4 linked regions of the Homo sapiens genome follow. The protein of the gene in region 1 interacts with the protein of each later gene in a pairwise test. Each region holds a gene or a part of one and is shown in the gene's direction. Other genes may lie near its edges.

Region 1 (7,030 bases):
TTCTTTTATCCACAAAAGCTCATTTGACAGGAGGTTTGTAAAGGTGATTTCAGTATTGACAAGGGTTTTATTGTGGGGTGGGACAACACTGAATGAGACTGAGTGACTTGGTACCAGCATAACATTATTTCTTCGTGGTAGTAGGTGATCTCCTGACCTCCCCACTCCTACTCATCTGCCTCTTAGGGTTTTTTTTTTTTTCTGTCCCTAACTTGATGGCATAAGACTCCTTCCTGGGGTCTGCCTCTCCACCCCCACCAGATGTGGGATGCTTGGTGTCTCTGCTGAATATAGGCAGAGAAGAATTTGGATGGGAGTGCTGGGCTGCATCATTGTGGAACTTCAAAGCGTTCCCTTAATATTTTGGGGAGTACAGTGTTGGTGTAGAGTTAGGCAGCTCATACGTTTCCTTTTAAAAGTTTGCATAGCCTGGATACACAGCTTGAAGAACCTCAGCAGGAATGATGTATGTGAAAATTGCATTCCATTTTATAATACATTAGTATGTTTTAAGACAAAAATCGTTTAGACTGACAAGCCATTCATTATAATCGATAATGCTGTTTTTTTTGGAGTCCACTTTGAGAAGTGCTCCTTTGTAGAAGTCCTTGAAACTAGAATCAGGAAAGCTAGCTACATCCTGTTCCTTACATAAATTGTTGAGAAATCTTGGGAGAGTCACTTCACCTCTTGTCAGCTGAGAAGATTGATTGGAGGTTACAGATTAGAGTTCTCTTCCAGCCCTATGTTCTGTGACTCTAGAATGAGTACTGAGAACATGTGATAGTTGGGAGGTTGGCAGTGGTAGCACTTCCTGGTGGTGTGAATGGGTAGGTCAGAGAAGGCTGGATGTACTGAGTGAGCAGAGGCAGCTGCATGGTGAGGACTATCAAGTCTGGGGGTTCTGTGTTCGAAGTCTCAGGTGTTAGGAGAGAGAGATCTTGTTGCTTTGCTTTTGTGGAGTTAAGATGAAGATCTGGAGTATCAGCAGGATGAGCAACTCTGAAAGCATGGACTCAAAGCGGTAGAGACCCTAATGTTAGAATGAAGTCAGGGCTTCAGGTTATCTGCAGAAGTAAAAATGGTTCTGGTGTTGTTTCCAGTTTTTAACCTTTTAGGATTTTATTGATTTTTTTTTTTCCCCTCTGCCTACATCATCATCTCCCCACACTGTTTGGTGTGTGCTGCGTAGTTTTTTACTTCTTTTGCCAGCAGGAGCTGGGGCAAGTTACGTAACCTTTCCAAGCCTTATTTTTTTCTCATTTTTGAAATGTTGATGCTGTCTTCTTCACAGTATTTTTGTGAGGGTTTTGAGAGAATGTTTGTAAAATAATTTGACACAGTTAGTCTGTTAGCACCCTTTTGACTGCCCGCGCAGTGCACAGAACATTGTTATTTAATACCTGTCCGCATTCTAGCCCTTTGGAATCTGACTCCCACCCATGTCCCAGGTTGCTGTCTCAGCCTTTCCTTCCTCCAGTTATTGCAAGAGCTTTTGCCCTTCCTTGACAAGCCTATTCTTAGAGCTGTGGCATTTCCTCCAGTGGTTCCCTGTGGAAGATGTGCCTCTCATTCAGGGTCTAACTGGGATCCTCCTTGTTCCAAGAAGTCTCCCTAGATTTCTTTCGCCAGACATGCTCATTCCCACCCATACCCTGACAGGGAATTGAGGGCCTTGTCATGCCCCCTCTTGTATCAGAGTTTTCATGTGTGGGTATGTCTTGACTGTACTTTTTTGGTAGAGAGGTCCCAGCACCTTCATGGGTGTGACTGTTTCCCAGAAAATGTTAAGAACTTGTTTACACACCAGAATTTTGAGTTCTTAGGAGGCAGCAGAAATCATTTTGATGTTTTTTGTGCGTGCGTGTTTCTTGCACACTGTAGGCGCATAGTAGATGTTTGTTGAATTGAATGTCCATGCAGTGTGGTGAAAAACAGCAGCAGTCCTGTAAACCTGGTTCCATTTTGGGAATTGAAGTTCAGCCATATTTTCATGTTTCATTTGTGAGTCTGAATTTTGGTGCCTTTATAACCCACAGTTGTACCAGGACCGTGTATTCTTTGCATTGTGAACAAGACTGGGGTCTGTAAAATAATGACAACAAAGACCATCTAACTGTACATCTTTTAGGTATGTAAATATTGTTAGCCTTGGCTTATAAGTTTCTGATTTTGTTGATTTTGGAATCCTCCTGTTAAACACTGTTTACCTGTCAGCTTTTGGTGAAGTGGCAGTGCATTTCCATTTTGCCAGTGGGAAAACTTGTCAGTTTCTGACTTTTAGTTCTCTCCTTCACAGATTTTACGACATTTCTACAAGATATGTGGTACAGTATTGGGCAGATGAACTGATTGCTGGATTGGTGTTTGATTTTAGGTATTCAAAACCTTTGACCACATGGCCCGTCAGGATGATGAGAAGAGAAGGCAGGAACTTGAAGAGAAAATCAGAAGAAAGGAAGAGGAAGAGGCCAAGACTGTGTCAGCTGCTGCAGCTGAGAAGGAGCCAGTCCCAGTTCCAGTCCAGGAAATAGAGATTGACTCCACCACAGAATTGGATGGGCATCAGGAAGTAGAGAAAGTGCAGCCTCCAGGCCCTGTGAAGGAAATGGCCCATGGTTCACAGGAGGCAGAAGCTCCAGGAGCAGTTGCTGGTGCTGCTGAAGTCCCTAGGGAACCACCAATTCTTCCCAGGTGGGAATTTCTACTTTGCAGCTTCCTTCTTTCTTGCGTAACATCTGGTGTTTGGGTTTCTCCATAATTTATTCTTACTTTGTAACACATTAATTCTTGATCTCAGTATTTATTTAGCTCTTCATGTTTGTAAACTGCTGCATTACAGTCTTTCAGTTATGTAGGATGGGAGGTCAGTTGGCTTAAGGTCAGTTCCCTCATTTGGTAAGGTCAGTAGTCATACAACCATTTGAGATCCAGAGCCAAAATTAGAGCACTTGACTCCTCTCACAAAGACCTAACTTTATCTGTGTTTAGAGGCTTAGCCTCAGCAGCTCGATTGTTTGTGTTTTTCTCTCTGCAGGAGCACTGCTAGGATTTGCTCATGATGCCTGAGGTATAATGGACACCTGAAATGACAGTCTGTTTTAGGTGACTGGATTCACATCCTCGCTATGCCGCTTCCTGAATGTATTACCTTGAACAAGCAGTATAACCTTTCTGTGTCTCAGTTTTCTTCTCTATAAAATGTAGGTGATAATAATAGTACCTGTCTCATAGAGCTGTTGTGAATTTTAAATGAGCCGATAGTCAAGCAGCTAATGAGCAGTAGAGCTTGAATATGACATGAGGTTTCCCTGAATCAAGCCTCTTGCTTTATGTACTTGTACTCACTTTTTAGGAGTTATGTTTTGTGGGTGCTCTAAACTTAGTTATACAGTCCTTCCTTACAGTCTGAGTGAGAGGAGCTGATCCCTTCTTGTGTGGGAGTTGTAGTAGTGTCTGCAAGACAGCCACGAGCCTCCTGGCCTGCTTTGTTTTTTTGGAAAATTCACTCTCTTCCCTCCTTGATAGGATGGGTCACCTGTGTGCCCCCAAATCCCTGCCACCTTGAGTTCTCTTCTGTTTTTCTCACTCCTTTACTCTCTTTCTGACGTGTTTTGGGGGAGATTGTGTGTGTGCGTGCACACTTTTTAATAGAGACCGGATCTTACTCTGTTGGCCAGGCTGGAGTGCAGTGGTGTGATCATAGCGCAATATATGAATTGAACTCTTGGGCTCCAGCAATCCTCTCGCCTCAGCCTCCTGAGTAGCTGGGACCATAGGCATGCACCACCACATCTGGTTAATTTTGTAATTTTTTGTAGAGATGTCTGCCACTATACCTGGCTAAATTTTAAAAATATTTTCTTGCTGTATTGCCTAGGCTGTGGGGGAGTTTTTGTTTTTTTTTCTAGTTAATGAAGCAAAGTGAACAACTTGGAATGGCTTATAAAATATGGAGTAAGAGAAAATAAGTTTTGTAAAGACAGGAGGGGCAAGATTGCAGAGTCTTAAAGTCCAGGCTAACTAATGGAGTTCGAAGAAAACAATTGTTTGATGGCAGAACCAAGCTGATGGAGAAGGGGAGCAGCTCTTGAATATGGAGCTCTGGATGAGAAGGGGTGAAATAAGGATTTAGAGATTGGAAGTGGGGAGTATAGGGTGGAAGGCAGACATCTGATATTTCCTTGCAGATCTTTTTAAAATATTTTTTATAGTGCAGATCTGCTGATAGTGAATTCTTTCAGCTTTTTTGTCTGAAAATGCCTTTATTTCATCTTCCATTTCTGAGGATATTTTTGCTGGATATAGAATTGCAGGTTGACACTTTTTTTTTGTTTTTGTTTTTCTTCAAACATTTTAAAGACTATCATTCCATTGTCTTCTAGCTTGCACTGTCTCTGATGAGAAGTGAGTAGACATTCTTTGTTCCCCTGTGTGTGAAATATCCCCATTCTCTTGTTATATCAGTTCCTTGAAGTTATTATCATTAGTTTGAGCAATTTGATTAAGATTTACTCATGCATGATAGTCCTTGTGTTTATACTATTGGGAGACTTTTGAGCACACACACACATACACACACACACACACACACTTAGGAGGTCTGTTTTCTCTTTGTCCTTCCTTTGGAATATTTTCTGTTGACCTGTCTTCAACTTTACTGTCTTTTCTCCTTTGGTGTCTAATCTGTAGTTAAACTCATCTAGTAACTTCTTAATTTCAGATAGTTTATTTTTTAGCCCTGCAGGTTCCCCTTGATTGTTTTTTATGGCTTCAATTTCTACCTTGGTTTTCCTTTAAATCCTTCAATATACTTACAATAGTTTAAAGTCTTTATCTGCTAATTCCATTATCTCTGTGATTTCTTGGTTTGTTTCTAGGGATTGAGTTTTCTCCTGATTTTGGGTTACATTTTCTTTTTCTTTCAAATGTCTGATAATTTTTTATTGGATGCTAGACATTAATGGATGTTATGCTGTCGAGTCTCTGGGTTTTGATTTCTTCTGTTGAGTGTTGAGTTTTGTTCTTGCAGGCAATTAATTTATTTGCTGATCAGAATGATCTTTTTGAAGCTTGTTTTTTATTTGTATTGATTGATCAATTGATTGTAGAGATGGAGTCTTAATATGTTACCCAGGCTAATCTCGAACTCCTGGTCCCAAATGATCTTCCCACCTTTGCTTACCAAAGTGCTGGGATTATAGGTGTGCACCAATGTGTCTGGCCTTGTTTTTCAGCTTTGTTAAGCTGTATCTAGGGTACTTTTATTTTAAAGCTAGCTTAGTCTTCTAAGACATGCCTTTTTGGGGCTTCTGAGTGCTCCAGCTGTTAGTGAGGTCTTTCCATTCTGACTGGTTGAGGCTTGAACGTCTCCCAGCTCTAGGGATTGTCCATGTCAGTTACCCAGGTTTCCTACTTGTCTCATGGAGTTGCACTTTACACATGTGCAGTTTTGTATTCAGCCAAAGACTCAAGGGGATCCTATGAGGTTTTTTGGAGTTCTTTCTATGCGCAGCCTCCTTACTAGTAGTCTTTCTGTAAAATAATCAGATGTAAGAATGAAGATTTAATATACAAAGTTGTTTGTCATAGTCCACTTAGGCTGCTATAACAAAATAATATAGCCTGGGTGGCTTATAGACTACATAAATTTATTGCTCACAGTTCTGGATACTGGAAGTCTAAGGTCAAGGTACTGGCAGATTCAGTGTCTGGTGAGGGCCCACATTCTGATTCGTAGTTACCTTGCTGTGTCCTCAAATGGTGGAAGAGGTGAGAGAACTCTCTCAAATCTTTTATGAGGGCACTAATTCCAGTCATGAAGGCAGAGCCCTGATCACCTCCCAAAGTACTCATCCCAATATCTTGGGATTAAGATTTACCGTAGGAATTTTGGGACACAAACATTCAGTCTATAGCATTGTTCACTTCAGTTCTATTTATTCCAACATTACTTATATTAGCAAAATTTTGGAAGAATGCTGAATTTCTGTAGTAAGGGAATGGAGAAATACATTTATAAAATGCTTTTAAAGACTACTGACATGGTTATTGTGATGGTCAGTTTCATTTGTCAGTTTGGCTAAGTTACAGTCCTGGTTATTCAGTCAAACACTCATCTTGGCATGGCTGTCAAGGTATTTTGTGGATGTGATGCAAGTTAATAATTGGTTGACTTTAAGTAAGGGTGATTGTCCTAGGTGATCTGAGTGGGCCTGATCTATCAGCTGAAAGCCTGAAGAGCGCAGCAGAGCTCCCCTGAAGTAGAAGAAATTTCTCCGATGGACAGCAGCTGCACTCAGTTTCTGGAGAGTTCCACATTGGCCTGCTATGTGGATTTCAGACTGGCCTAGCCAGCCCCCACAATCATGTAAGCCAATTTCTTGCAGTAACTCTCTTAATAAATACACTTATCCCTTGGTATCTGCAGGGGATTGGTTCCTGGTCCCTCGTGGATACCAAAATTCATGGATGTCTAGGTCTCTTATATAAAACAGTATAATATTTGTGTATAACCTATGCACATTCTCCCATAGACTTTAAATTATGTCTAGATTACTTACAATCCCTAATACAATGTAAATGCTATGTAAATAGTTGTTACACTGTATTATTTGGGGAATAATGACAAGAAGTTTGTACATGTTCAGCACAGACAAAACAATCCATTTTTTTTTTTTTTCAAATTTTTGGATTTTTTTTTTTTTTTTTTTTTTTTTTGATACTGGGTCTTGCTCTGTTGCCCATACTGGAATGCAGTGACATGATCTTGGCTCACTGCAGCCTCTGCCTTCTGAGCTCAAGCGAGCCTCCCACCTCAGCCTCCCAAGTAGCTGGGACTACAGGCGTGCACCACCTTGCCCAGCTGATTTTTGTATTTTTTGTAGAGATAGGGTCTTACCATGTTGCCCAGGCTGGTGTCGAACTGGTGAGCTCAAGTGATCCACTCGCCTCAGCCTCGTAAAGTGCTGGGATTATAGGTGTGAGGCACCATGCCTGGCCATTTTTTGGGAATATTTTTGATCCTCAG
Region 2 (6,872 bases), on another chromosome or scaffold:
TTGTGCCATTACACTCCAGCCTGGTGACAGAGCGAGACTCTGTCTCAAAAAAAAAAAAAAAAGGTAAAACACAGAGTTTGTTAGATAGGAGAAAAATCAAACAGGACTGAGGACAGGGAGTTGATGTCGGGGGACCTTGGGCTTGCCCCAGGACCACTCCGTGGTGACTGCCTGATGGGGCAGACACTGTCCCCAGCCTAAAACCACAGGAACTTGAAGCCCTCCCCCAAGGCTTCACTTTCCTCCTCCATAACACCTGGGGATTGTAAGGGAGGCCTCCAAGCTCTGACCTGAGGGTGTGAGCCCTGCAGCTGGTCTGAAGTGGGAGAGCAGGTGGCGCGGGCCCTGCCTCTAGGAGAGCCGTGCCAGCTGTGGGCCAGATGGTGGCCAGGCCCGTGGATGCTGCCTGCTATGTCCCTGCCTGCCGGCTCTGCTAGACCACAGGTCATCATTACTGGATGAGGCGTGTGCAGTCACCGGCGTGGGCCCTCCAGGTCCTCCACTTGTCTCTGCTCCATGCCAGTGATAGTGGCCTCTAGAGCTCAGGCCAACAGCTCTGGCAGAGGTCACTGGCCTCACTCTGCCTCACTCGACATCCCATCTGTTCCATCTCTTTTTGGTCCCACCTGCAAAGTGCATCTCAACTAGGACTACCTCCCACCCCTCCATGTCTGTCACCCTGGGATGAGCCCTACCCATTTTTCCCTGGATTATATGCCTCCTGACTCATGTCCCAAATTCAAGATATTGTCCCCCAGTTGTCAGACACTGTTGAACAGTCAGACACTGTAACACTGTTAAATTGACACTGTTAAAACCAATGTCAGCTGGGTGCAGTGGTTCACGCTATAATCCTGGCACTTTGGGAGGCTGAGGCGGGCAGATCACTTGAGGTCAGGAGTTCGAGACCAGCCTGGCCAACATGGTGAAACCCCGTCTCTAATAAAAATACAAAAATTATGCTGGGCACAGTGGTTCACTCCTGTAATCCCAGCACTTTGGGAGGCCAAGGCAGGTGGATCACTTGAGGTCAGGAGTTTGAGACCAGCCTGTCCAACATGGTGAAACCATCTCAACTAAAAATACAAAAATTGGCTGGGCGTGGTGGCACATGCCTGTAGTCCCAGCTACTCGGGAGGCTGAGGCAGGAGAATCACTTGAACCTGGGAGGCGAAGATTGCAGTGAGCTGAGATTGTGCCACGGCACTCCAGCCTGGGTGACAGAGTGAGACTCCATCTCAAAAAAAAAAAAAAAATTAGCCAGGCATGTGGTACATGCCTGTAGTCCCAGCTACTCAGGAGGCTGAGGCAGGAGAATGGCTTGAACCCAGGAGGCGGAGGTTGCAGTGAGCTGAGATCGCACCACTGCACTCCAGGGTGGGCCACAGAGCAAGACTCCGTCTCAAAAACAAAACAAAACAAAACAAAACAAAAACCCAGTGTCAATTACATTGCCACTGCTTACAAGCCCCCTCTCCCTTCTCATTTCATGCAGAGGACCCCAAAAATGATCCCCAAAGCCCTCTGTGACCTGAAGCACCTCCTGTTGCCTCCCACCCATTCTCCTCCCCTCTCCTCTCCCTCTTCCTAATTTTTCTCTGCCAGGCCACTCTCTAGGCACGCTCCTGCCCCAGGGACATTGCACTGGCTGCCCTGTGCTATGTGATCGTGGAGGACAGATCACACAGTGTGTCCAAAGTGCAGTGAGTCTACAGCACACTATGTGTGTGTGCACAGCCAGGAGCCCAGAGAACCTCTTCTTTCTTATCTTCAGCTGTGTGTCTTGTGTGTCTGACATATGGGTCAAATCTGGATGTTTATGAAGTGTGCGTGCATATGGACACCATTGATTTCAAATGTTATTTGTGGCGGGTGTGTCAGCTGTAGGTCGCTGCTGAGTGAGGTTTGATGCCTGCATGTGGTTCGTCTGGAACAAAGACTCCTGGGGCGGTGCTGACTTAGGGCAGGCAAGGGTGTGTGTGTGTGTGTGCAGAGCTTGCCGGAACGTGAGCTGTTCATGCACGCGTGCATTCAACATTTGCAGAGTGCTTACTGTGTATTGGAGATGCCAGCAGTTCCCTTCAGCACTTGGTATCTGTCAGCTTGCACAGGGTCATCTGAGAGCATTTTGTGTAACGATTGAGCACGTATTGTTGTATCAGGCCCTCTGTTGGAGATGCTGGTTGAGTGCGGTCCAACCTGCAGGAGTCCACTCAAGCAGGCCCCTTCCTTCCTCCTATGGGGTCTCCAGCCCCATAGCCACCTCCTTCTTCCAGCACTGACGGGAAAGAAGGCTTTGAGCTCCTTCTGGATCACTGCTTTCTGCCCAAGACTGCACAAGTCAGAGTTTTCTGACTTGGAGGTTAAAAGAATAAATGAGCTCCAAGCTACAGAGGGGATCCTGGGAGCCTGGAGCTTACCAGAGATGGGGGGTGAGGGGTGCCCCCAAAAGGTCTAGATGCTTCATAGACGCCTATAGATGCAGGACTTTGAGCCCTGGCTGAGGGTCAGTGTGTTGGGAGGGCTGGTGCTTGGGGATCTGAGGGTGTTGGGTCCGGTGGAATGGACTTTGGGAGTGTAAGGTTTGAAGGATCTGTGGGCAGGGATTTGGGGGAGTGGGAGATGAGTTTTGAGTAGAGAATGGGAGATAATTGGATGTGCAGGGTTTTAGAGTATGAGAAACCAGAATTGGTGTATGAAGCAGGTGGTGGGAACCTAAGGCCAGATGATTGGGGTCTCAGGGTGGAGGCTCTGAAGAGGGTATGTCAGGGGAGGGTGGGGAACCATGAGGGGCTGGAAGTCTGAGGCCTGGGCATGGGTGAGTTTCGCCCCTGAGAGAGGCCTGGGAAGGAGGTAAGACTGGAGTCGGGGTGTGCAGGGTGGGGAGAGGGAGGGTGTGGTTCTCAGAGCTTAGAGACCCATTTCTCCATGCTCCATCTCACCCTCCCTCCCACCCTACCTATAACTCACTTCCCTGTGGCTCCAACGCCTCAAAGTATAACCACGCCCAGCCAACGCCCGGGGCACGCCTGCCAGCGCCCCAGGGCACTCACAGACACTCCTTAACACCTGCACGTGCCCCGCCCCTCCTCAGATCCGCCGCTCACTTAGCCCGGCCCCACCCCCATCAGATGAGGCTCCGCCCCCCCGGCCCCGCCAATCCCTCGCCCCCTCCACGCACACACCCCTGATCTTCCCCGCCCTCCTTCCAACCAGACTCCACCCCTCGCCCAGGCCCCGCCCTTCCTCAGACCAGGCCCTCTCTTCGCTTGACCACATCCATCCCCAGATTCCTCCTCTCTCCTGCCCAGACCCGCCCAACCTCAGACCCATCTTCTCCTTTCTACCTCCCCGACCACTCCCCCACCGCATTCCTAACCTCCACCTTGTCCCTTCTCACACCTGGCCCCGCCCTTTATCCTGCGCCCCGCCTCCTCCGCAGGCCGGACCCTTGTCCCTCCTCCTCTTGCCCTGGGCCTGCCCCTTCTTCAGACCCCGCCCCACTCCTCAGCCCAGGGACCAACCCCATCCTGCGCCTACTTGTCCTGCTTCGCCCCGTCCCCACCTATCCACAGACAATACGCCCTCTCAGCCCAGAACCGCTTCCCTTTCAGACTTGGTTCCGCCCCTCACGCCAGGGTCCCGCCCCAATCCGGCACCCCTAGCCCAGGCCCCGCCCTGGACCCACCTCTCTGCATAGCAGGCCCCTCCCTTTATCCCAGACCCGCCCCGGCCCTCCGTAGACCACGCCCCTCCGATTCCGGGCCCGCCCCAATCCTTGGTTTCTGGTCCCGGCCCCGCCCCTCCGCAGACCTGGCCCCGCCCCGCCCCCCGCGTCTCGGTTTCCCGGGCCTGCGCGCGCGGCTCCCGTCACTCGAACGCGCGACGGCGGGGGGAAGATGGCGGAGTCCGGCGGTAGCAGCGGTGGTGCTGGTGGCGGCGGCGCTTTCGGCGCGGGCCCGGGCCCCGAGCGCCCGAACAGGTGAGACCCGGCCCGCAGGATAGACCTGCACCTGTCTTGGAGCCCAGGAAACCTGTGGGCAGTCTTGGGCGTCCTGAGGGGTTGAGGGGAGGCCTGGCACGGCTCGAGGGTCTTTCGCTGAGAATTTGGACTTTACGGGGCCGTGGGGTACTGGAGGAGCCGAGGGCTACTGAGGGGGTGGCTGGAGGGGGGCTGGGTGCCCCAGGACCTCGAGGCGTCTGCAGGCGGCCCTAGGGACCTGAGAATCCTGGGGGTCTGAAGGGAAACCGAGGGGCTCTTGACTGTGGTGGGCCGTGGGGCAACTGGGGATGCCAAAGGGCCTGGGCAGCAGAGAGGGCCTGAGCAGGGGCCATGCCATGGCCAGTCTGAGGGTGGTGAGGTGTCTTGGGGGCTCTGAGGAAGGGGCTAAGGCCCAAGGCATCCTGGGAGGTGCTGAAGGGCCCCAAGGTGGCTAAAGGTGGTCCTGAGAGCGTGCTGAGGGGCGCTGGAAGGAGTAGAGACTGTGGGAGGCTCTGGGTGGGGGACTTAGGTGAATCTGGGAGTCTGAGATGGGGAGGCTGAGGGGGCCTGGGGTGGGTCTAGGGAACCTGAGGGGGGTGAGAGAACTCCAGGGGGTTTATAAAGAACATACAGAGGGTTCTTCTTTGGGGCTCCTCCCTTCCATCCCCATGGGGTCCAAATCCACATCCCCAACAGGCTAAAGGACTTACAGAAAGGTCTTGCCCTCAGACAAGGGGACAGAATTCACCCCTTTGGTCAGAGGGAGGCCCCCTTTCCCCATGGCCCAGTCCTGACATGGATTGCTTGAACGTCCAGGTTTGCATGACAATTAGTTATCATCAATAACTAATGATATGTGTGTGCATGCATTGTATTGGATTGTCAGAGGGAAAGAACACCTGCCTTAGGAGTGTGATCTCCTGCTCTTTTCCTATTGGGCAAAGCCAGACCCTCCCACCCCAGCTCCTCCTCTAGCCCAGCACCCAGGTCAGGCCAAGGAGGAAATTCAGGCTTTTTCTTGCTGGTGAGCTTCCAGGAGCCAGTAATTTCAGGCAACATGATAAATGATGAAGTTGTTTGATACTTACGTGCTGTGGAGTTTTGGACCTGTGGGCTGATTGTTGGAGGGAATGGCCTGATGGCCTGGCTGTGTGATTTGGTACTGAATGGAACACGCATGGGATGGGTGGGGAAGGGAGGAGGGATGGCTGGGCCAGGGCACAGAGGAGGCAAAGGCCCTGCCTGTTCCTGAGGATGCTGAGTGGCACCTTGAGACTTAGGTCTGTGGGCATTGAATCTGGTCTGCCAGAGGGGCCATGGGGAACCCAGGAGGTGTGTGTCCAGAGGGGTGACCAGCCTCCTGGGGTAGGTGTGGGGCAAGATTGTCCTGCAGTAGGGAGCCAGGAGATGTCAGAGGATTTTCAGAGATATTCAGGGAGTGGCCAGGGCTTGAAAATTGGGTATCAGTTGGCAAGTAAGGGACAGGGAAGAGGGACAGTGAACCCCAGGTCCCTGCCTTGGGCACTGGAGTGGGATAACCTGGGGCTAGGGCTTTTTTTATTTTTATTTTTTTGAAACCCCGTCTCGCTCTGTCACCCAGGTATCTAGGCTGGAGTGCAGTGACGCCACCAAGGCTCACCGCAGCCTCAAACTCCTGGACTCAAGTGATCCTCCCACCTCAGCCTCCTGAGTAGCTGGGACTACAGGTGTGCACCACCACACTTGGCTAATTTTTAAATTTTTTGTAAAGACCAGGTCTTGCTCTGTTGCCAGGCTGGTCTCAAACTCTTGGGCTCAAGCAATCTTCTTGCCTCACCCCTCACTAAGTGCTGAGATTACAGATGTGAGCCACCATGCTGGGCATGGCTCTTTTTTTATAAACAGCTTTATCAAGATATAATTAATTGCATGGCATACAATTCACTCATTTTGTTTTTATTTATTTATTTATTTTTTGAGACAGAATCTTGCTCTGTCACCCAGGCTGGAGTGCAGTGGCGCAATCTCGGCTCACTGCAACCTCTGCCTTCCAGGTTCAAGGGATTTTCCTGCCTCAGCCTCCTGAGTAGCTGGGACTACAGGTGCCCGCCACCATGCCTGGCTAATTTTTGTATTTTTTAAGTAGAGACAGGGTTTCACTGTTGGCCAGGCAGGTCTGGCATTCCTGAGCTCAGGTGATCCACCCGCCTCGGCCTCCCAAAGTGCTGGGATTACAGGCGTGAACTACTGCACCCAGCCAATTCACTCATTTTAATTTATCATTAAGTTTTTTTTTTTTTTTTTTTTTTTTTTGAGATAGAGTTACTCTGTTGCCCAGGCTGGAGTGCAGTAGTGTGATCTCGGCTCACTGCAACCTTTGCCTCCTGGGTTCAAGCAATTCTCCTGCCTCAGCCTCCCGAGTAGCTGAGACCACAGGTGCATGCTACCATGCCCAGCTAATTTTTGTATTTTTAGTAGAGACGGGGTTTTGCCATGTTGGCCAGGGTGATCTTGAACTGCTGACCTCAAGTGATCTGCCCGCTTCAGCCTCCCAAAGTGCTGGGATTACAGGTGTGAACCACTGTGCTCAACCCAGGTCATTAAGTTTCAGTACATTTACTGAGTTGTGCATCCTTCACCACAATCCAGTTTTTTGGAATGCTTCCATCACCCCAAAGAGTTCCCCCAAGCTCGTCTGCAATTAACCCTGCTCCACCAACATACAGCCCCGGGGACATCCTGATCTGCTTTCACTCTCTGTAGCTTTGCCTTTTCTAGAAATTTCGTAAGAATGGAATCAGACATGTGGCCTTTACGTCTGGTTTCTTTCCTTAACATAATGTTTTTGAAGTTCATCTGTGTTGTTGTATCAGAAATTTGTTCTTTTTCACTGTGGAGTGAAAATAAACAA
Region 3 (7,030 bases), on another chromosome or scaffold:
TGACAGTTAAGATTTCAGATGTAGACCAGTTTTGGATCAGGAACAGGTCCAAGTGGGGTGGGAGTAGGGTTTGCAATGGAATAAGTGGGGAGGTTGTAGGAGTTGAGATGGTCAGGGAGTTTTGACTTACAGTTTTTGGATGGCTGATCTTATGTGAACATTGAAGAGGTGTGAAAGATGACTTAGCCAGGTGTTGAAGTCTTTTTTTTTTTTTTTTTTTGAGATGGAGTCTTGCTCTGTTGCCCAGGCTGGAGTGCAGTGGTGCGATCTTGGCTCACTGCAGCCTCCGTCTCCCAGGTTCCAGCGATTCTCCTGCCTCAGCCTCCCAAGTAGCTGGGATTACATGTGCCAGCCACCACACCCAGCTAATTTTGGTATTTTTAGTAGAGAGGAGGTTTCTCCATGTTGGCCAGGCTGGTCTTGAACTCCTGACCTCAGGTGATACACCCTCCTCAGCCTCCCAAAGTGTTGGAATTACGGGCGTGAGCCACTGAGCCCGGCTTTTTTTTTTTTTTTTTTTTTTGAAAATGGAACCTCGCTCTGTCGCCCAGGCTGGAGTGCAGTGGTGCAGTCTTGGCTCACTGTGACCTCCACCTGCTGGGTTCAGGAGATTTCTCCTGTCTCAGCCTCCGGAGTAGCTAGGACTACAGGCGCCCGCTACCATGTGCGGCTAATTTTTGTATTTGTTTTGTATTTTATTTTATTTATTTTGAGACGGAGTTTCACTCTTGTCGCCCAGGCTGGAGTGCAGTGGTGCAATCTCAGCTCACTGCAACCTCCGCCTCCCGGGTTCAAGTGATTCTCCTGCCTCAGCCTCCCGAGTAGCTGGGATTACAGATGCCCGCCACCATGCCTGGTTAATTTTTATATTTTTAGTAGAGATGGGGTTTCACCATGTTGGCCAGGCTGGTCTCAAACTCCTGACCTTCAGGTGATCCACCCATCTCGGCCTCCCAAAGTGTTGGGATTACAGGCATGAGCCACCACGCCCGGCCTTTAATTTTTGTATTTTTAGTAGAGACAGGGTTTTACCATGTTGCCCAGGCTGGTCTTGAACTCCTGATCTCAAGTGATCCGCCTGCCTCAGCCTCCCAAAGTGCTGGGATTACAGGTGTGAGCCACCATGCCTGGCCCAGGTGTTGAAGTCTTCATCAAATGTTTGAGAGTGATTGATCAGAAGATGTGTATGGAAGTGACAAGGGGTGACAGAAGATGGATTTTTATCTGAGCAAAAGGCCAAGTTATAGAAAAAGAACAATAGAAAGCTAAGAGAAAGAAGACTTGGAAAGTAGGGCTGTAAGCTCTAAAAGTTTTTTTTTTGTTTTGTTTTTTTTTTTTCTAACACGCGTGGGAGTAGAGCTAGAGGTTGGAGGCAGGAGGCCTGGAAGCTGTGACTTTTAGGAAAACTATGTCTCATTTAAATCAGGTCGAGGAGGGAACTTTCTGTGACCAACCTGAGCATGTAGGGGATTTTGTTTACATTGAAGTAAGGTTCCACAGGGCACAGTGGAAAGGTTTGGGAGAGAATTCAGGGATGGAGGATGGGTCATTGGGGAGGAAGCCGGGAGCTGTGTAAGGATGAGAATTAAGAAGATAGATGGTCTGGGGTGGGGGTATGTGAAAAGGAGAAAATTAATTTGCTTCATAAATAACCCAGTAGACTGAATTAGTGGCCAGGCGCAGTGGCTCACGCCTGTAACCCCACCACTTTGGAAGGCCGAGTCAGACGGATCATCTGAGGTCAGGAGTTTTAGACCAGCCTAGCCAACATGGCGAAACCTGTCTTCACTAAAAATACAAAAATTAGCTGGGCGTGTAGCAGGTGCCTGTAGTCCCAGCTACTCGGGAGGCTGAGGCACAAGAATCGCTTGAACCCGGGAGGCGGAGGTTGTAGTGAGCCGAGATTGTGCCACTGCACTCCAGCCTGGATGACAGAGCAAGACTCCGAAAACAAAAAAATAGACTGAATTAGTTTATTCCGCTGTATTTAAGATATCTAATTATAGTTCTCTATTTTACCTTCATTTCTCTGATATGGAAAGATTTGGTTTAATTTCCTTTAAAATTATATATTTGTATTTTTAAATATATAAGCATTACATCATTATTGTTTTTCAAAGTAAGGGTAATGAGGTAAATGAAAAGAAAGCCTCTCCTGAAAACCTACTACCCAGGGACATTATTTTGGTATATATTTCTCCAGACTTTTTCTCATCTAACAAATATATGCGTATTTAGTTTTCGAAGACGTACTCAGTATACTGCAGTCACTTGTTTTTTTTTTCATACAATATCTGATAAATATTCTTTGTAAAAATAAACTGTTGACATCATTTTAAATTGATAATTTATTGTAGGACTGTATCATGTTTTAATAATTTGTTATTGGACTTTTGAATAGTTTCTGATTTTTAAATAATAAGCCTAGATAGAAAAACCTTATATGTACAACTTGCCTATTTATTTGAATATTTCCTTTAGGTAAATTTCTAGGAGTTTTCAGGTATACTTTTTAGTTTCATTTTTGTCCCTTTTCTCATTATTTAGTATTTGGCTGTGAAATCATTTTTATGTTGCTAATTTTGGAACCTGTTCAAAGTATATTTGATGAACAATATGAAATCAATGGAATAGGCATATATTATTTGTAAGATAACAATTTACCATTGTTTGATATATATATATATATATATATATATATTTTTTTTTTTTTTTTTTGGAAATGGGGTCTTGCTGTCTCCCAGGCTGGCATGTAGTGGCATGATCTTGGCTCACTGCAACCTCCGTCTCCCGAGTTCAAGCGATTCTCCTGTCTTGGCCTCCTGAGTAGCTGGGACTATAGGTGCATGCCACCACACCTGGCTACTTTTTGTATTTTTAGTAGAGTTGGAGTTTCATCGTATTGATCAGGCTGGTCTTGAACTCCTGACCTCAGGTGATCCACCCACTTCGGCCTCCCAAAGTGCTGGGATTACAGGTGTGAGCCACCGCGCCCAGCCGACATATATATTTTTAAGAGATAGGGTCGTGCTCTGTTGCCCAGGCTGGAGTGCAGTGGTGCTATCATAGCTCACTGTAGCCTCAAACTCGTGGGCTGAAGGGAATCTCCCACCTCAGCCTCTGAAGAAGCTGGGGCTGCTGGCAATGTGCCACCATGCCCAGCTACTTTTTTTTTTATTGTTATTATTTTGTAGAGACAGGGATTTGCCATCTTGCCTAGGCTGGTCTCCAACTCCTGGGCTCAAGCGATCTTCCTGCCTTGGCCTCCCAAAGTGCTGGGGTTATAGGCATGAACTATTGATGTATCTTTAATAGATTCTTTTCCTTAGATAGGGAAGCCAGAAATATTAGTCTGCAAACCTTTAGATTGTCTTCTCCCAAAGGACTTGTACATTTTGGACTTAGTCAGTAGAATTGAGATAATAGCAAAAATTGTTAAAACTCTAAGTTAATATTTTCTTCTGAATGCATGGAAGTGTTTAACATTGTTGTCTTTGATTTTTTTCCAGGTGATTCATGGCAGGGGACGTGGAAGGATTCTGTTCCTCCATCCACGACACCAGTGTCTCTGCTGGGTTCAGAGCACTGTATGAGGAGGGATTGCTTCTTGATGTCACTCTGGTTATTGAAGATCATCAGTTCCAGGCCCATAAAGCACTCTTGGCCACCCAGAGTGATTACTTCAGAATTATGTTTACTGCAGACATGAGGGAACGAGATCAGGACAAAATTCATTTAAAAGGTCTAACAGCTACCGGTTTCAGCCATGTCCTGCAATTTATGTACTATGGAACTATAGAGCTGAGTATGAATACCGTTCATGAGATTCTTCAGGCTGCCATGTATGTTCAACTTATAGAAGTGGTGAAGTTCTGCTGCTCTTTTCTCTTAGCGAAGATCTGCCTAGAAAATTGTGCAGAAATTATGAGACTCTTAGATGATTTCGGCGTAAACATCGAGGGAGTCAGGGAGAAGTTAGACACCTTTCTGCTAGACAACTTTGTGCCACTCATGTCTAGGCCTGACTTTCTGTCCTATCTGAGCTTTGAGAAGCTCATGTCTTACTTGGATAATGATCATCTGAGCAGGTTCCCAGAGATAGAGCTGTACGAGGCTGTGCAGTCTTGGCTGCGGCATGATAGAAGACGCTGGAGACATACCGATACCATCATTCAGAATATCCGGTTTTGCTTGATGACCCCAACCAGCGTTTTTGAGAAGGTTAGTGCATTTGAAAGCAATAGACAGTACTCATCATTTAGTTAAGGCAGTGTATGTCTTTATAGATAAGATTCACAGACTTAAGAGCCAAGAATGAATAACTTCATTTTGTTATTTCTTATGTTATTCAAGAATGAATAACATAAGAGTACTTTATGTATAAGAAGCCTGATTTGTTGTGCATTTAGGTTTTGTAAAATACATTTTGTGGGTGAAAGATAAACCACGTAGGTAGTAAAACAGTTTTATTTTAAAAGTACTTTTAAAGTTGAAGCATAATTACTTTATGCAAAATATTACATGTTTGCTGTAGCTTTTCTTTTCATTTCATCAATTAAATCGGAACCGAGTCAGGCTAGATCTCTTTTTAAAAATAAATTTAAGTAATACATGCAGAAATTGGCATTGAGAAGAGTTCTGCATGGTATACATTAATAGAGTTTCTTATTCCTCTAAAATATAGCAAGGACGTACAAAATAGCTCTTGAAAACCAATAGGCCCTAATGGTGATTTTCTTCCCTGCTCTTACCTTCTGGTTTTCCCCGTTTTACTGTGAATACTAACTAAATTTGACAATGAAAACATGTTATATGTCTAAAAACATCATTTTGGCATTTCTAAACAAGTAGACTATAACTCTTCTATCTACATTGATCAACCATCCCTGGGCACATTTTACCATGCAAATAGTTCTCTTAAAAATAGTCTTTCTCTGAAACAGCCTTGGCCTTTTTTTGCATGTAAGCATTTTCATTTTTATATCAGAGTTTCACTTGTGATCCTTTCTTGCCCAAAGGTCATAGAGCACTTTTAGTAATTGCTTAACTTAATTGGTTTCTAATCACATGGTTACCTCTGGGGCTCTGTTTACTTCTTGCATCTTCTCTTTTTTCTAGAAAGCACACTGAAAACTTGGTCGGTCACTTTTCATGTTAAATAGTTCCTCAGCTTTAGTTATTAGACCTGGTTATAAAAATACAGTATCTGCAAAGGAGGGTTGTCTACGCCATTTGAAAAATAAACCCATTTGCGCCTTTGAATAACAGCAGCCTGACATATTTTTTTTTCCTCCAAAATGCTGTGAAACTGAGAATTCAGTTTTGTGGATTTTTGTCTTTTATTCTCAATGTATTGATGTGGCAGAAATAATTGAAACTAAATTATATATATGTATGTATGTATTTTTTTTTTTTTTTTTGAGACAGAGTCTCGCTCTGTCGCCCAGGCTAGAGTACAGTGGCGTGATCTTGGCTCGCTGCAAACTCTGCCTCCCAGGTTCAAGCGATTCTCTTGCCTCAGCCTCCCGAGTAGCTGGGATTACAGGCGTCAGCCACTGTGCCTGGCTAATTTTTGTGTTTTAGTAGAGACAGGGTTTCATCATCTTGGCCAGGCTGGTCTCGAACTCCTGACCTCATGATCCACCCGCCTTGGCCTCCCAAAGTGCTGGGATTACAGGCGTGAGCCACCCCACCCAGCCAATAATGTATTTCTTTTATTTTTTGTTTAGTGATAATCAGCCCCACATCAATTATGTAAATCATTTGTCTCTGATGTTTTGATTTTTTTCCTATTGTTTTTATTGCTCTTTTTCCCTGGGGAATCCTGTTTTGTTTTGTTTTTGTTTGTTTTGTTTTGTTTTGAGAGGAGTCTCACTCTGGCCCTGGAGTGCAGTGCTGCGATCTCAGCTCACTGCAGCCTCCACCTCCTGGGTTCCAGCAATTCTCATGCCTCAGCCTCCCGAGTAGCTGGGATTACAGTTACCCACCACCATGCCTGGCTAATTTTTTGTGTGTGGAGATTCTTAATTCTTCCTTTGGTAGTAACAGATTTGAACAGTGACTTAATAGTGTAGGGAAGGGGGCATTCTGCCTCAACCCAAGGAAAAGCCCCCATTCGTTCTAGGGACACAAGTCATGTCCTCTAGCTGTGCTGAAATCTTTGGGTTTATCCTTCTGCAGTATCTATGTAGTCCTCTACTGGATTTTCTCCTTAGGTGAAGATAAGATTGTCTTAACTTTTTTTTTTTTTTTAGTATACTTTTTTCTTTTTTAATATTTAACTTTTTTTTGTAGAGATAGGGTCTCACTGTTGTCCAGGCTGGTCTTGAGCTGGCCTGAAGTGATCCTCGTGCCTCGGCCTCCCAGAGTGCTGGGATTATAGATGTGAGCCACCGTGCCTGGCCAGATTGTCTTAATTTTTGTACTAAGTATTCTGTGGGACCATCATCGAAGAGGCCAAGGCTTCCAAATTTCCTGAGTTCCTTAGAGGCAGCAATACTGTTTATCTGAACACTGCATGTGCACACGAGCACACACACACACACACACACACACACACACATATATTTATGCTAGGTCATGTACTAAGTGCTCTTACCGTACATATAGGTAGCATCTACATGGTTTTTTTTTGTTTTTTTTTTTTTGGTTTTTTTTGAGACGGAGTCTCACTCTGTTGCCCAGGCTGGAGTGCGGTGGCACGATCTAGGCTCACTGCAAGCTCTGCCTCTCAGGTTCACGCCATTCTCCTGCCTCAGCCTCCTGAGTAGCTGGGACTACAGGCACCCGCCACCACGCCCGGCTAATTTTTTTGCATTTTTTTTTTTTAGTAGAGACGGGGTTTCACTGTGTTAGCCAGGATGGTCTTGATCTCCTGACCTCGTGATCCGCCTGCCTCGGCCTCCCAAAATGCTGGGATTACAGGGGTGAGCCACCGCGCCTGGCCATGCATCTACATGTTATCCCCATTTTATAGATAAGGAAACAGGCACAGAAAGGTTAAGGATCTTATTCCAGACCAAGTGGCACT
Region 4 (5,958 bases), on another chromosome or scaffold:
TTCTCCTCTCCTGCAGGTACGACACCATCACCAACCAATGGGAGGCGGTGGCCCCTCTGCCCAAGGCAGTACACTCTGCTGCAGCCACAGTGTGTGGCGGCAAGATCTACGTGTTTGGTGGGGTGAACGAGGCAGGCCGAGCTGCCGGCGTCCTCCAGTCTTACGTTCCTCAGACCAACACGTGGAGCTTCATCGAGTCCCCAATGATTGGTGAGAACCAGCGGTGTCCTCAGCCCAGGGCCAGGGTCGCATCCCTGCCTTGCTGATTTGTTCAGTATCCCATGCCCAGAAGTCAGGCTAAGCCCAACAGCTCTGCAGACCCAGATCTAGAGGGTGGCAGGAGTTGCCGAGCCCCCAGCTCAGGTGTCTGGAGAGGGGCAAGTGAGTCAAGGCTCCAGGTTCCCCTAGGCCCCGGACCCATCCCCAGGCCAATCAGTCACTTGTTGGAAGTCTTTCGAGCTTCCTTCCCTGGAGGGTCTTCTGGGAAAGAAAAGGAGAGGGAAGTCCAAGACAAGCTGCCGTGACCTGCCTGCTCTGCTCTCCTCACAGACAACAAGTATGCCCCCGCTGTCACGCTCAATGGCTTCGTTTTCATCCTGGGCGGGGCTTATGCCAGAGCTACCACCATCTACGACCCTGAGAAAGGAAACATTAAGGCGGGCCCAAACATGAACCACTCTCGCCAGTTCTGCAGGTGAGAGGCTGCGGCGCCTTGACTAGGGCTGGGACGGAGGAGTGGGAGGAGGAGGGGTGTGACCACAATGATTTCCTGCCATCAGTGACCATAGCAATTCCCAGGCCCAGAGCAGTGGCCCTCCCCCTCCAACCACAGGAGTGGGCATTAGCCCAGACCAGTAGGGTGGAGCCCACGGCAGCCTCTGGTCCAGGAGCCCAACCCCGGGGCTCCAGCTGGCCCCAGCTCCAGCAGAAATGAACCATTTCCTGAAGGCATCAAGGCTACCCTGCTCTCAGTGAGAGGTGAGGTCAGCTTCCCCCAGGACCACCTGCCCCATCACAGACAGAAGGCAGTGCCAGGCCAGAGCTGTGTGATGCCCTACAGGGACAAGTGACTTCTTGGGGGAATGCTCTGAGGACATGAACGATCCTGATGGCTTTGGGAGCTGTGCTCAGAGTCCCAAAGGCTGACTGGGCAAAAGCACACACAAACCCACCCCTGCAGGCAGAGAAGGTAGAGGGCTGAGTGTGGCTCGGTCCCCAGGCTTTCTGGCCCTGTGGCAGCGAGACACCAGTCCCTGCTCTTCCAGCCCCATCCTTTCCTGGACTAAGAGGAACAAGGAATAAAAAGGGGCCCCAAGGCCAGGTGCAGTGGCTCACACCTGTAATCCCAGCACTTTGGGAGGCCGAGGCGGATGGATCAGTTGAGATCAGGAGTTCAAGACCAGCTTGGCCAACATGGTAAAACCCCGACTCTACTAAAAATACAAAAATTTGCCAGGCGTGGTGGCATGTGCCTGTAATCCCAGCTTCTCAGGAAGCTGAGGCAGGAGAATCGCTTGAACCCGGGAGGCGGAGGTTGCAGTGAGCCGAGATCGCGCCACGGCACTCCAGCCTGGGTGACAGGAAAAGACTCCGTCTCACAAAAAAGAAGGGGCCTCAGAAACCTCATTGTCAGGACTCCCATAGCAGATGCTTCCTGAAGACATCTTGTGCCTATGTAGAGGTAACTGCAGAATCTTCAGTGTGGGAATAGCATGAAGTACTTAGAGTGCCCATTGTTTGTGTAGCATAGCTAGAAAAGATATAACCTCCTACTAGCATGTCAGTGACCTTGGACATATCCCTTCACCTCTCTGAGGAAGTTCTATCTGTGAAACAGGCGGTTGGACCAGACAACTGCTAAGCTCCTGTTGGACTGAGATTTCACAATTCTTGAGCCATACTTCCATGTCATGTACCCTAATGGTGGCAGTGTGCAGAGCACAGTCTGACTACCCCGTCCACTGATGCAGACAACTGGAGCATTGCGCTCCACTTGGGAGGATGCTCGCACCTTCTCTGAGACTAGAAGTAAATGGGAAAGGGCCAGGCACAGTGGCTCACGCCTGTAATCCCAGCACTTTGGGAGGCTGAGGTGAATGGATCACGAGGTCAGGAGTTCAAGACCAGCCTGACCAACATGGTGAAACCCCGTCTCTACTAAAAATACAAAAATTAGCCAGGTGTGGTGGCAGGCGCCTGTAATCCCAGCTAACTCAGGAGGCTGAGGCAGGAGAATTGCTTGAACCTGGGAGGCGGAGGTTGCAGTGAGCTGAGATCACACCACTGCACTCCAGCCTGGTGACAGAGTATGACTCCGTCTCAAAAAAAAAAAAAGAATGGGAAAGACTTAACGGCAAATGGCAGAGTTAAGCTGGGTCTTGCAAGATAATCAGGTAATAGGTGCACCACAGAAGGAAAATATGAGGGCCCCAGATGGCATGAACTAAGGGAGAGAAGACTGGAAGCTTCAGGGTCTGGTAAGAAGTCCAGACTGATGTGTTCTCTTTAAGAGATTTCAGAAACGGGTGGAGCCTTTGAAAAGGTATGTGTCCAATGTCAGGGAATAGCCAGGAAGAAATGGCCATTAGCTGAAATGAAAGAGTGTCAGGGCTAGAAACAAGGATGTGGACGTCAGTGCAAAGAAGTAGCTGAAATGCATTAAGGGAGTCAGTGCAGAGAGGGGCCAGATGCTGAGCCCTCATGATGAGAGGAGCTGACTGAGACAACAGGAGCAAGCCAGTGAGTGTCACACAGGGAAGGGGTCCAGGCACAGCCATCGGTCACCCTGCAGAGCATGCCCGGCCCTTGCAATCCTGGGTGGGCAGCAGCACCAGGTCACACAGAAGCACCTTGGCAGGTGGAGCTCCCAGTCAAGTGGCTGACATTCAATTCCAGCTGAGCTCCTTATTATTCTCTCTCGTCATTCTTGTGAGTCATGTTCCCAATTTGATTTGAGCAGTAGGAAGGCTGCGTGTGCCACACAAGAGCCTCCAGAAAGCCTCAGTGACCTGAGCTGAGTGCCCGCACAGAGATCTTTCGTCTCCTAGCCATGGTTAGTCACTCTGGCGGGGCAGGGAGGGAGCGCCTTCTGCCGCTCGCAGGGTGGCATAGCACGGCTTCCTGACTGGCCCTGGAGGACAGGTGTTTTTCTTATGCCAGCCCAGGTTAGAGGGCAAAGAAGGGCAGCAAGATCCCAGATGCCTTCTGCAAAAGGCACAGGCAGCCTACAACAGGACACGACGTTGAGAACCTATCTCCAGGGCCAAGTTGGAAGTGAAATGCCTAACTCTGTCCCCGCTTTCCCCCAACAGTGCTGTGGTGCTTGATGGCAAGATTTATGCAACTGGAGGTATTGTCAGCAGTGAAGGGCCCGCGCTGGGCAACATGGAGGCCTACGAGCCCACAACCAACACATGGACCCTCCTCCCCCACATGCCCTGCCCTGTGTTCAGACACGGCTGCGTCGTGATAAAGAAATATATTCAAAGCGGCTGACATCAGCAGAAAGCCCACGATAAGACTGTGGACAAGTCTGGTGAGGCAAGTGCCACGCAATGATAATTTTCCAGCGACACCAACAAGAGGCCAACAAAACACAATCAAGGAACTCACTGCGCTCAACATGTTGAATATTCTCTACATTGAATGTAGAAAATCATCCTCGCCTTTGGATGAAACGGAGGCACCGCGCTTGGAGCCGCAGGAACCACGATCCCGCCATGGGGCTGGCTGCCTCCTGAACAGGGGCGCTCGCTCTGCCAGGTGCAATAGAGTTTCACGTATTTTTCAACTGGGAGAGAGAAGCTGTTTTTTCCTTCCTGCAGAGCAAGCTTGATCCCTAAACAACCATAGATCAGTTATCTTATGACAACATTAGGCATCAGGCTCTCTTGGAATAAGATCAAAGTGTCCTTATCACTTTGATTCCTACTTTTGTTTTTTAACCGATCTACACTTTCAGTGGCCGACAGAAAACGAGGGACAATACTGTGCATCACAAGGCCTAGGAGGCTGCTGGTCCCCACTGGGGCTGAAGAGAAGCCCAGCTGCCCACGCGGAGCCAGGGGTGGCAGCTGTGGGACAGCCGGGGAGCAGGGACAGCGGTCTGTCCTTCACAGGTTTTTCTACTGTGTTTTTGCTGGAGAAGGACAGTGATTGCGCTAGCTTTCTCTTACCCGGTATGAATTATTTAGATTTCTGAGGCATTTTCTTGATAAACAAAAGGCTATTTTTAAGTACTGAGAGGAGGAGCAGGCCACAAGAGGGATAATGTTGTGGGAATTCCCAAAGCTCTTTGTAGGTAGTGCCAGAGGGGGGCTTTTGCTCTCATTTTTCTATGTGCAGAATAGAGGATCTCTCCTGGGGTGGGCGATGCCCCCATTTTATTTTTAGAAAAAGTAACTCCCAGACAGCCCCATAAAAGCTGTGCCCAAGGAAGAAGAGTCTGCTCTAGAAGGAGCCCGGTTCTGGCTCAGGACACCGGCCCAGCTCCCTCCATGAGGTCAAGCTGAGGACCAGGCCAGTGGGAAGGGAAGGAGGGAGAATTAGCGTCTATAAAGCACAGGAGACTATTTTTGATATTCATAGCTATATATTAAGGCACCTGCCACAAGAGCTCTCAGGATGGGGACAGCCTTCTTAGTGGAGCCATGGCAGCAAGGCCTGAGGGCATGAACAGAACCACTCTTCTTGTCACATACGAACCTGAGAAAAGGGAAGCCAGGAGGGAGGTCACACCATGGCTCAAAAGGGAAAGGCCTTCCCACTTGTCCTTAGCCCCTCAAACCTCACACGGTCAACAGTTTCCATTCCAGGGCAGGAGAATGCTGCCGCCACTGCGCTGTTGAGTTGAAGTTGGTACCAAATACACATTTACCACTTTTATATCTGGGAAGTCAACTTGCCATCGTTTCATGATAACAACCATTTATAAGAGAAAAAGACAGGACACGCTTTCCATCGTTCAGTATTTGATGACACAAAATTCCAGTTCTAACGTTGGGCATCAACTTCTAGCACTACGAGTGTGGCTCCCACTTGGACAAGATACCGAGCTTCGTTATGCAGTTTTTAATATTATTTATTATTTTAAAAAGTAATAAGCACAAAACTACATACATTGTATGTCATTTAAAGTATTTATGTCAAACAGGGTGCAAGTGTGAACCCAAGGACTGGAGCACAAATTCCTAACTGCCTGGGGCAGGGCTAATGTTAGCATTGGTGTGCGTCTGCCTCCAAAGGAGGTTCTAGTTGTCAGCGAGACTCAACACAGATGACATTGAAATTCGTTTCTCTCCTCATCTATCACACTGGAGCAAAACTGGCTATTTCTGTGAATGATATAAAACAGGGTTCTCTGTAATGGTATTGTACATAGTATATGTTTACTGTTAAGTTCTTGTTATATTATAATAAATATATTTATAGATCTAGACTTGGAAGCCAACGTAATCTTTGTGTGCCATCGTCCTGCCACAGGGATGCAAAACCTGTTCTACCCCTCATACATCAGCTGTATGGGTTCTCTTATAGACTTTAGTGCAGAACTTAATGATTAGAAAGGATGGGACTCCATATTGAGGGAAGGTTTAGAGTTGAAAAGCCAAGAAGACAATTGAAGGTAAAAGTTGAAAGGGACTTGCAAACACGCTGGCACTGGCTCTGAGGCTCTTCCTTTCATTGAAGTGCTCTTCTTATTACACTTGTGCAACTGAAAGCTTCAAAGCTGTTAGCTTCCCACTGGTATCACTGCTGTGCCAGGGACCCACTTAGAGCCACATGGCAAGTCCAGCTCATGAGCCTAAGAGGAGACACAACACACTTTCTCCAGGAAGAGGAATACAGGGTGATTTCTTTTCTTTTCTTTTCTTTTTTTCTTTTTTATTGAGATGGAGTTTCACTCTTGTTGCCCAGACTGGAGTGCAATGGCGCGATCTCAGGCTCACCACAACCTCC

What was found.
Region 2: the proteins of NUDCD3 (region 1) and KLHL26 interact in binary tests that used the Homo sapiens proteins (3 or more experiments, as listed by UniProt).
Region 3: the proteins of NUDCD3 (region 1) and KLHL15 interact in binary tests that used the Homo sapiens proteins (3 or more experiments, as listed by UniProt).
Region 4: the proteins of NUDCD3 (region 1) and KLHL29 interact in binary tests that used the Homo sapiens proteins (3 or more experiments, as listed by UniProt).

The regions. Positions count from the first base shown.
Region 1 is NC_000007.14:44,480,632-44,487,661, reverse strand, and holds part of NUDCD3 (nudC domain-containing protein 3), read left to right. Parts: intron 1-2,377; coding exon 2,378-2,694; intron 2,695-7,030.
Region 2 is NC_000019.10:18,633,156-18,640,027, forward strand, and holds the start of KLHL26 (kelch-like protein 26), read left to right. Parts: upstream 1-3,872; 5' UTR 3,873-3,899; coding exon 3,900-3,982; intron 3,983-6,872. UniProt on the Homo sapiens protein: May play a role in endo(sarco)plasmic reticulum (ER/SR) mitochondrial signaling. May be part of the ubiquitin-proteasome system (UPS) and affect ubiquitination and degradation of target substrates in cardiomyocytes.
Region 3 is NC_000023.11:24,003,180-24,010,209, reverse strand, and holds part of KLHL15 (kelch-like protein 15), read left to right. Parts: intron 1-3,509; 5' UTR 3,510-3,516; coding exon 3,517-4,221; intron 4,222-7,030. UniProt on the Homo sapiens protein: Substrate-specific adapter for CUL3 E3 ubiquitin-protein ligase complex.
Region 4 is NC_000002.12:23,703,170-23,709,127, forward strand, and holds the end of KLHL29 (kelch-like protein 29), read left to right. Parts: intron 1-16; coding exon 17-210; intron 211-549; coding exon 550-694; intron 695-3,311; coding exon 3,312-3,495; 3' UTR 3,496-5,437; downstream 5,438-5,958.